Linked DNA regions of Homo sapiens. The protein of the gene in region 1 interacts with the protein of each later gene in a biochemical or structural test. Each region holds a gene or a part of one and is shown on either strand. Other genes may lie near its edges.

What was found.
Region 2: of the proteins of SRPK1 (region 1) and HBS1L, one has a biochemical effect on the other in vitro, tested with the Homo sapiens proteins (one large-scale study listed by BioGRID and IntAct).

The regions. Positions count from the first base shown.
Region 1 is NC_000006.12:35,872,599-35,876,098, reverse strand, and holds part of SRPK1 (SRSF protein kinase 1), read left to right. Parts: intron 1-1,759; coding exon 1,760-1,866; intron 1,867-3,370; coding exon 3,371-3,500. UniProt on the Homo sapiens protein: Serine/arginine-rich protein-specific kinase which specifically phosphorylates its substrates at serine residues located in regions rich in arginine/serine dipeptides, known as RS domains and is involved in the phosphorylation of SR splicing factors and the regulation of splicing.
Region 2 is NC_000006.12:134,995,222-135,000,309, reverse strand, and holds part of HBS1L (HBS1-like protein), read left to right. Parts: intron 1-2,653; coding exon 2,654-2,913; intron 2,914-3,367; coding exon 3,368-3,533; intron 3,534-5,088. UniProt on the Homo sapiens protein: GTPase component of the Pelota-HBS1L complex, a complex that recognizes stalled ribosomes and triggers the No-Go Decay (NGD) pathway.

The DNA.
Region 1 (3,500 bases):
TTTTTTTTTTTTTAATTTAAGAATCCAGGCTAGTTGTTTTATGCCACCTTAGTTTGGATTTGTTTGATTGTTTCCTCATGATTAAATTCAGGTTAACCGTGTTTGTCAAGCATAGTACATGGATTATTGCATTAGAATATGCATTCGAATGCATATTAGTATATTGCATTAGAAGGCACATGGTGTGAATTTGTGCTTATCATTGGTGGTAGTAAGTTTGATCACTTGGTTAAGGCAGTGCCTTCCAGATTTCCCAGTTGTAAAGGTACTTTGTTCTTTTTGTAATTAATAAGCAATCTGTGGAATGATATTTTGACACTGTGACAATCCTTTTTCCCGACAGTCTTTCACATAGTTGTTTTAGTATTCACTGATTCTTACCTGAATCAGTAATAGTATACTATAGTGATTGTAAAAATGGTGATTTTCTATTTCTGTAATCCCTTATGTATTTATTATTTGGCTTTCTTCTCTAAAGAAGATGTTTCTCTTCCTCCTGCCTCCACACTTACTTTCAGATCAGTGTGGACTTGTTCTGTTTTTAATTCATATATTAACTCATAATTTTATCCTTTATAGTGGTCTGGCCGGGCGCAGTGGCTCACGCTTGTAATCCCAGCACTTTGGGAGGCCAAGGCAGGTAGATTATGAGGTCAGGAGTTCAAGACCAGCCTGGCCAATATGGTGAAACCCCATCTGTACTAAAAATACAAAAATTAGCCCAGCGTGGTGGTACACACCTGTAGTGCCGAGAGGCAGAGGTTGCAGTGAGCTGAGATAGTGCCACTGCACTCCAGCCTGGGCAACAGAGCCAAGACTCTGTCTCAAAAAAAAAAAAAAAAAAGAAGTCTCCATGTTGGCTGGTGACATCCTTTTCAAGATGGTTCCTGTTTCTTCCTGACAGGTTCTTTTATTTGTTAGAACAGCAAGGTGTTCCAAGTTTACCCTGTTATTTTTCCTACCTTGGATTTGGCCATTTTTCCAAGGAGCTCAGGCTTTCCTTTAATGGAGAATGTTAAAGTCTGAGCACTAGACCATTACTATATATGTATGTCTTAACTTGCATGTAGAAGCCAGTGGGGGTGGAAGACATCAAGATACTACTAAAATCTCTGTAGTGCCCTGCACAATTTTAGACTCAGAGTATTCCTGCTGTGTGGTGTCATCAGGTTGTTCATACATAAGGACAACACATGGTGGCACTGGAATCAAGATTAGTTTTGTAAAATACAGAGCATTAAGCAAGTTTCCTATTTAAAAAAAAATGTTGGCATTTACGTTTTTGAGGTTTAAGTCTTTCTTGTACATTCATCTCTTCTATAGTTAAGGAATAATTTGTTTTTCCTTGCTTTGAAGCTGTGAGAGTGGGAATTTTTACCCTGGACACCAATTTTGATATTAGGGAAGAAACTAATTTACCTGAAGCTAATCAACAGCTTGAGGCTTGAGCCTACTGCTTTCTTTCACTATTTGCATATGTAGGTTTCACTTTTTCTTTTACCATTGAGTATTTTAATGTACATAATAATATTGATGAAGCCAGCCGCCCACAATTTAATGTTTCATGAATGCTTTCATTGACTATAGCATTAGACTTTGAAATTTTAGAATATTAACAGCTACATATTTATTCATTCAAGCTCTGTAACTTTTTATACTGAAAGAAAATAATACATAACATTTAATAGGGTGGAATTCACAGCTTGTCTTGCCGTGTTCTTCTTTTGTGCCGTTTTTTCCCTCCTTAATGAATTCCTAGATATCTGCATGGTATTTGAAGTTTTGGGGCATCATCTGCTCAAGTGGATCATCAAATCCAATTATCAGGGGCTTCCACTGCCTTGTGTCAAAAAAATTATTCAGCAAGTATGTATCTTGAATCAGCAAGTATCTTAGTCTTGACTATGTAGTGATTTTTTAATATTCTTGAAGTGTCAGGACTTTATTTTTTCCAATAGAATTTTTGTTTTAAGGCCGGGTGTGGTGGCTCATTCCTGTAATCCCAGCACTTTGGGAGGCCGAGGCGGGCAGATCACGAGGTCAGGAGATCAAGACCATCCTGGCTAACATGGTGAAACCTCCTCTCTACTCAAAATACAAAAAGTTAGCCGGGTGTCTTGGCAGGCACCTGTAGTCCCAAGCTACTCGGGAGGCTGAGGCAGGAGAATGGCGTGAACCCAGGAGGCGGAGCTTGCGGTGAGCCGAGATCACACCACTGCACTCCAGCCTGGGCGACAGAGCGAGACTCCGTCTCAAAAAAAAAAAAGAATTTTTGTTTTAAAATTCTTTGTTTTAAAAAGTAAGTTATTGGCTGGGCGCGGTGGCTCACGCCTGTAATCCCAGCACTTTGGGAGGCCGAGGCGGGCAGATCACCTGAGGTCAGGAGCTCGAGACCAGCCTGGCCAACAGTGCGAAACCCCGTCTCTACTAAAAATACAAAAATTAGCCGGGTGTGGTGGTAAGCGCCTATAATCCCAGCTACTCGGCAGGCTGAGGCAGGAGAATCGCTTGAACCCGGGAGGCGGAGGTTGCAGTGAGCTGAGATCGCGCCACCGCGCTCCAGCCTGGGCGACAGAGCAAGACTCCATCTCAAAAAAAAAAAAAAAGTTAATTGCTAAAATTAAATATTTCATTCAACCTTTAGAATTTATTGTGCTTATTCTCTTTTTAAATGTTTTAGCATAACCATTTTCCCCCAGGTTTGCCTCCTATAATAATTAGAAAGGGAAGCTGAGGTTCCTGACTTGGGAACATTGGAGCCCTTATCCAGAAGTTCTGGTTGCAAATAGTAATTTTACATGAATAGATAATTGCTATGTCAGATTATTGCCATCTCTTTATACAGCATGATTCATAGGCATTTTCTAATTTTCTAAAGAGCCTTCAATATACAGTATAGATTTTACCATCAGGAAAATATTAATACTTCAAGGTGCAAAAATTTGTTTGGATTATATGTCCTGGAAAGAGCTCCAAACTGGGCAGCAAGAGACCTCAATTCTTCCTCAGTGAGGAAATTTGAATTAAAGATATCTAAATGTCTGTCAGCACCTACATTACAACACTTAGAGGGTGTGTGTGTGTTGAAGTTTATTCTCAGTCTTTGCATTGTACATAGTTGAAGAATATCTCCAAATAGAATCAGCTTTGTAAAACATTGAAGAATTTTTTATTGTAAATAATTTCTTGCCTTTTTCATAGTTTAATCTTTCTGAGAAAGTTTATTTGTGCTTTTTTAAAAGGTGCTTTTATTCTCTATAGAAAACGCTATCATATCTTTTTTTTTTTTTTAATGTCATGTTATAATCTCTTACTTCTCCAGAAAGCCTGTATTTTGTGTTTGCAAGTCTGCCACTCTATTTCCATTCAGGTGTTACAGGGTCTTGATTATTTACATACCAAGTGCCGTATCATCCACACTGACATTAAACCAGAGAACATCTTATTGTCAGTGAATGAGCAGTACATTCGGAGGCTGGCTGCAGAAGCAACAGAATGGC
Region 2 (5,088 bases), about 99 Mb from region 1:
GTGGGAGCATCACTTGAGCCTAAGAGTTCAAGACCAGCTCGGGCAATATATTGAGATTCCCCCATCTCTACCAAAAAAAAAAAAAAATTAGCTGGGTATAGTGGTGCTTGCCTGTGGTCCCAGCTACTTAAGAGGCTGAGGTGGGATCACTTGAACCTGGGAGGCCAAGACTGCAGTGAGCCAATATTGTACCACTGCGCTCCAGCCTGGGCAACACAGCGAGAGCGAGACCATCTCAAAAAACAGAAAGAAAGAAAGAAAGAAAAAAAGCTTACAAAATGATACCAGAAAGCACCTGAAAAAAATCCAACCAACTTATTCTTTCATTCATACCAGTCAGTAATTAATTATAGGCCTGAAATCCAAATGGTCATTTTTAGACCTTATCTTAGATATTTTTCAAATCTTAAAACATTGACTTTTATTTCATAATATGCAGAAGTTTTTTTTACTAAGGGCAGACTTACCTAGGATACTTTTCTAATTACTTTGGTCATTTCCCACTAACACTGTAGAATTTTAGTGAATTAATTTACAGTTTACCTAAGATTTACTTAAAAGGGGCCGGGTACAGTAGCTCACCCCTGTAATATCAGCACTTTGGGAGGCCGAGGCAGGTGGATTACTTGGGGTCAGGAGTTCAATACCAGCCTGGCCAATGTGGTGAAACCCTGTCTCTACTAAAAATACAAAAATTATCCGGGTGTAGTGGCCAGCGCCTGTAATCCCAGCTACTCAGTAGGCTGAGGCAGGAGAATTGCTGGAACCTGGGAGGCGGAGGTTGCAGTGAGCTGAGATCGCACCATTGCACTCCAGCCTGGGTGATAGAGGGAGACTCCATCTCAAAAAAAAAAAAAAAAAGAAAAGAAAAAGATTTACTTAAATGAAAATGCTATCCTGAAAGCCAGAGGAAAACAAACCTTTCATGTTATTGAATTGCAGATGAAATGATCAAGTCAGCCCTGTTTTGTGAAGCCCTTCCTATTCTGGCAGCCCCTCTGAGGGCTGCCTGGATTGGTGGGGGAGCTGAGCTTCAAGCCCCTGCCCACTCTGTCCACCATAGCTGTCTGCTTTGATCTGTTTTCCATATTGAATTTAATGCAAGCTTGCCTCTGAAGAAAATGTTTTGCAGCTAAAAACAAAAAGATCTGGGGCCCGAGATTGTGATTTCTGCCAGGTCTGATTCAGACCAGAGCCTATGTCTAGTCACAGTAGATCACTTGTATTATAATTTGTGGGGCTTTAAAAATTCTTCTAAGTATAGAATTGTCAAGTTTTGGTTTTAGAACTAGCTGTGGTCATTCAAACAAATATTTGCAAATTATAGTCTGTTTGATTTCACTTAATTTAGCCTGTTAGAATCCTTTAAAAGTATGGGAACATTTCCTGCATATTACTGTTTTTACCTACTAGTTTAAGATGAAGTGCATCTGTCTAAGCAGTGCTCAAAAATGAACACCTAAATTGGTTAGTGGAGATTTGAAAAAGCAAAATAAAATGAGAATGGATATGTGGCTTTAAATAAAGTTGCAAATATAACTATTGTGACTCTTTTCCTGAGGCGTATTGTGAAGGGCTAATGTTGGGCATATAAAAATGCCCTGACAGGGAAAAACCAATGTATTTTTTGTTATAATAGGCAAGAAGAAAATAGATGTGCTTACACATATCCATCATGCTACAATCTTAAATGATTATTATAAATTGCTTTCTATATGTAGTTTTTCTTTGCCAGCTCCACATAGAGTTGGATATAATTGGTTTCATTCTTAATAACTTCCAATTTAACCTGCTCTTTGTCCTAATTCTGTTTATCCATAGTTGTTAAAGCAAAGTGAGGCATATCATAGTCTGATTATTAGGTCACATTCCTTATAGCTATTCAGAGTTGCACTGGTACTAGTTTCTATGTGGAGTGTCAACGAGCTCATGAAGAACTAAGATCAGTGTTTACTTTTGTTAAGGAAAGAATAAGTTAAGCTGGGCAGTCTTGTTTCTCCTTTATATATCTGAGTTCCTCACTAGATTGTAATCTTTTAAGAGTGGTAGTTAACTTTTTAATTTCTATGTCATTTTCTTTTTGACATCAGTCCCTAGTATATGTTGTAGTTTTTAATAAATCAAGTGTTTGTTGAATTAATGAATTAAAGCTCCACTGTCAAAAATGTTTATGAACTGTAGTCATTTAGAGATATCTCCCCTCGGGGTAGTATTTGAGTAAAAAAGATCATAAGTCTATCATGTTGGAAGGATGAGTTGAAGTAAAACTATATTTTAGTACTAATTCATCTCCAGTAATATATTTGGTGCCAATTTTACAAAATATCTCCTTCATACCATTGATTTTGATAGGATGGATTATATGGCCAAGACTGTGGGCTTGATTTTGAATTTCAGTTATTTTTCAACATTATTTTCTTCTTATCTTCATTTTTGGTACAGTTTTTCTCATGGGATCTTCCACGGTTGTATTTGTGTGGTTTGAGTCTAGCTACTTATCATTTCCACCTTAACAGACTTTAGCTACTTAGCAGAGATTATTTCTGGTCTGGAGCATAAAGGATTATGAAGAAACAGTTTCTCTGCCCTTCTGTCATTGTAGGACATCAATAGAGTTGGTTTCAAATACTTTTTTCCTATCTGCCTTCTGTAGAGTATCTTCTGAAGAAAATGGTCATAGTTTCCACACACCTCAAAAAGGACCGCCCATTGAAGATGCCATTGCTTCTTCCGATGTTCTTGAGACTGCTTCTAAATCTGCTAATCCACCCCACACGATTCAAGCATCAGAAGAGCAGAGTTCAACCCCAGCACCGGTGAAAAAGTCTGGCAAGCTGAGGCAGCAAATAGATGTGAAGGCGGAACTGGAGAAGCGGCAAGGAGGGAAGCAGCTACTCAACTTAGTGGTCATTGGTAATGCTCTTTGTCCCTCTGGATCGTCAGCCAGCCATGCCTTAGCCTGCCCACTGTCTGGAGGCAGCATGGAAACTCTGAGTTTCTCCATGGGTGGAATGGACAGAGAGCAAGGAGGCACAGTCTCATAATGCTTTCTAGTCATGTGGGGAGAGATAATGCCAAGTTACCAAAGAGGTCATTACACTTGATTGTGGGATTTTTCATTTTGTGAACATTTTGAAATTGGCGTGTCTTGTTGACAATTTTAATTTCCAAAAATCTGAGAAATTCCCCCCGTCTGTAAAGAGATATGCTCTTTTTTTTTTCTATTAGATGTTTTAACTGTCATTTGATAAATACTGGTATTACTGTAAACCACTGACATGAAATATTGAATTACACATTTATGCAATGCCTCAATGTGAACATCTGGAAATGTACCTGGTATTAATCCTGAATCAATTTTCTTTAGGTCATGTTGATGCTGGGAAAAGTACTCTGATGGGCCATATGCTTTATCTTCTGGGTAATATAAACAAAAGAACTATGCATAAGTATGAACAGGAGTCTAAAAAGGCTGGCAAAGCTTCGTTTGCATATGCATGGGTCTTGGATGAAACTGGCGAAGAAAGGGAAAGGTAGTCACTATATTTCAAAATTTTCAGTTTGAAATCATACAGTCTTCTAAAATAAGTGTGTAATATGTGTTGAATTTGTAAAACATATGAAATACTTTAGAGATTATTTTTAGAAAATAGCTTTTAGATATCAGGGAACTATTTTGACTTTTTTGATGTAATCTGCATACTGTTTTTACTCTTCTGAATTTTATAGAAATAGATTAAAAGAATGTTTAAAAGAAACAAAATAAAAGCCATGCAGAAAAACAACAGTAAAAATCATAAGCTGATTATTCTATGGGATAAGTTTCAGTTGTCACTTCCCTAAGTATTTGTCAAATTGTCTTGATTTTGAATTAAAATTATGAGTAAGACTTTTAATTTCATGTCAGCTTACAAAGGAAAGGTAACTGTCATAAAACCTCTTCTGTGTAGAATCTAAATAACCAGCAAATTCAAATTACCAAACAATTCATTTTTATACTTTACATATTATGTTTTTATGAGACAGTCTGCAAACAAGTAATTCTGTAGCTATAATGCAGTCAGTTACTCCTCTGTCTCTGTTACTGTCTGGCCAAAGAATAGTATTTCTTTTGAAGTCCTTTTAGAGTGTCAGTATAGATCATGTTAGGGTAGCTAGGGTAGGAGAGCCAAAGGACACCTTAATAATTAGTGAAATGGCAGATATATCAACTGTGTCAAAATAATGACTCTTTACAAACCTATAAAGTCCTGTGGAAGTCCTAGATTAACGAGATTAAACTGTGTTCCCTGATGTCTTCAATCTGATTATTGGAGAATATATCTGGATTTTCATGCCTTTTTAATGTGTATTTTCTTGCAGTCTTGGATAGTCTCCATTATAAACATATAAGGTAACGCTCTGTAAAGCAGGTCACAGTATTCCTTAGCTCTTCTGATAAACCAGAATTTGTATCATAATGGTTTCTCTTTCTTTGTGGGTGTCTTTAGTTCTTTATAGTATCACAGACCTGTTTTCTATCCTAGTAAGAAAAATTAGCTGGACAGTTGCCAATTTTGGAAAACAATGTAATTGTATATGATGCAATAGTAGAAGCCTAAATAATTTTCACCTCTCAGTTTAACAAGCACATTACTAAAGTATGTGGCTTTTTAGTTTTCTTTGCATTATCTAGTAAGCAGGTAAAGACATTGAGAACAGTATAATTTAAGTTAGAATGGTTTACTTGAATTTACCTAGTATCTTAGTTGAGCTGGCAAGTGAACTAATAATCTATTTGATTCCTATAATGGTCAGTCATTTTAGCTTTTTTGATAATACATCTGTTGATTGGCTTTCATATTTTTGCTGCTGCGTTTTGCTGCTGCTAGTTTTTTATTGCTCAGCATGATATAAGTTTTAGAATATTTCTTCATTCCATAGATAGCAGATGCTTCCAGGTACATGATGGGAGTTTTAGCTCACCACCGTATGTTCCTTAATAGCATTTACAAAATGTAATATGTTGCTTATCCTGCCATGTTAAATATTTGTAAATCCCCTGGTCTTCTCAGATACTGAAGAACAGAAATTAGTAAATTGAGTGAC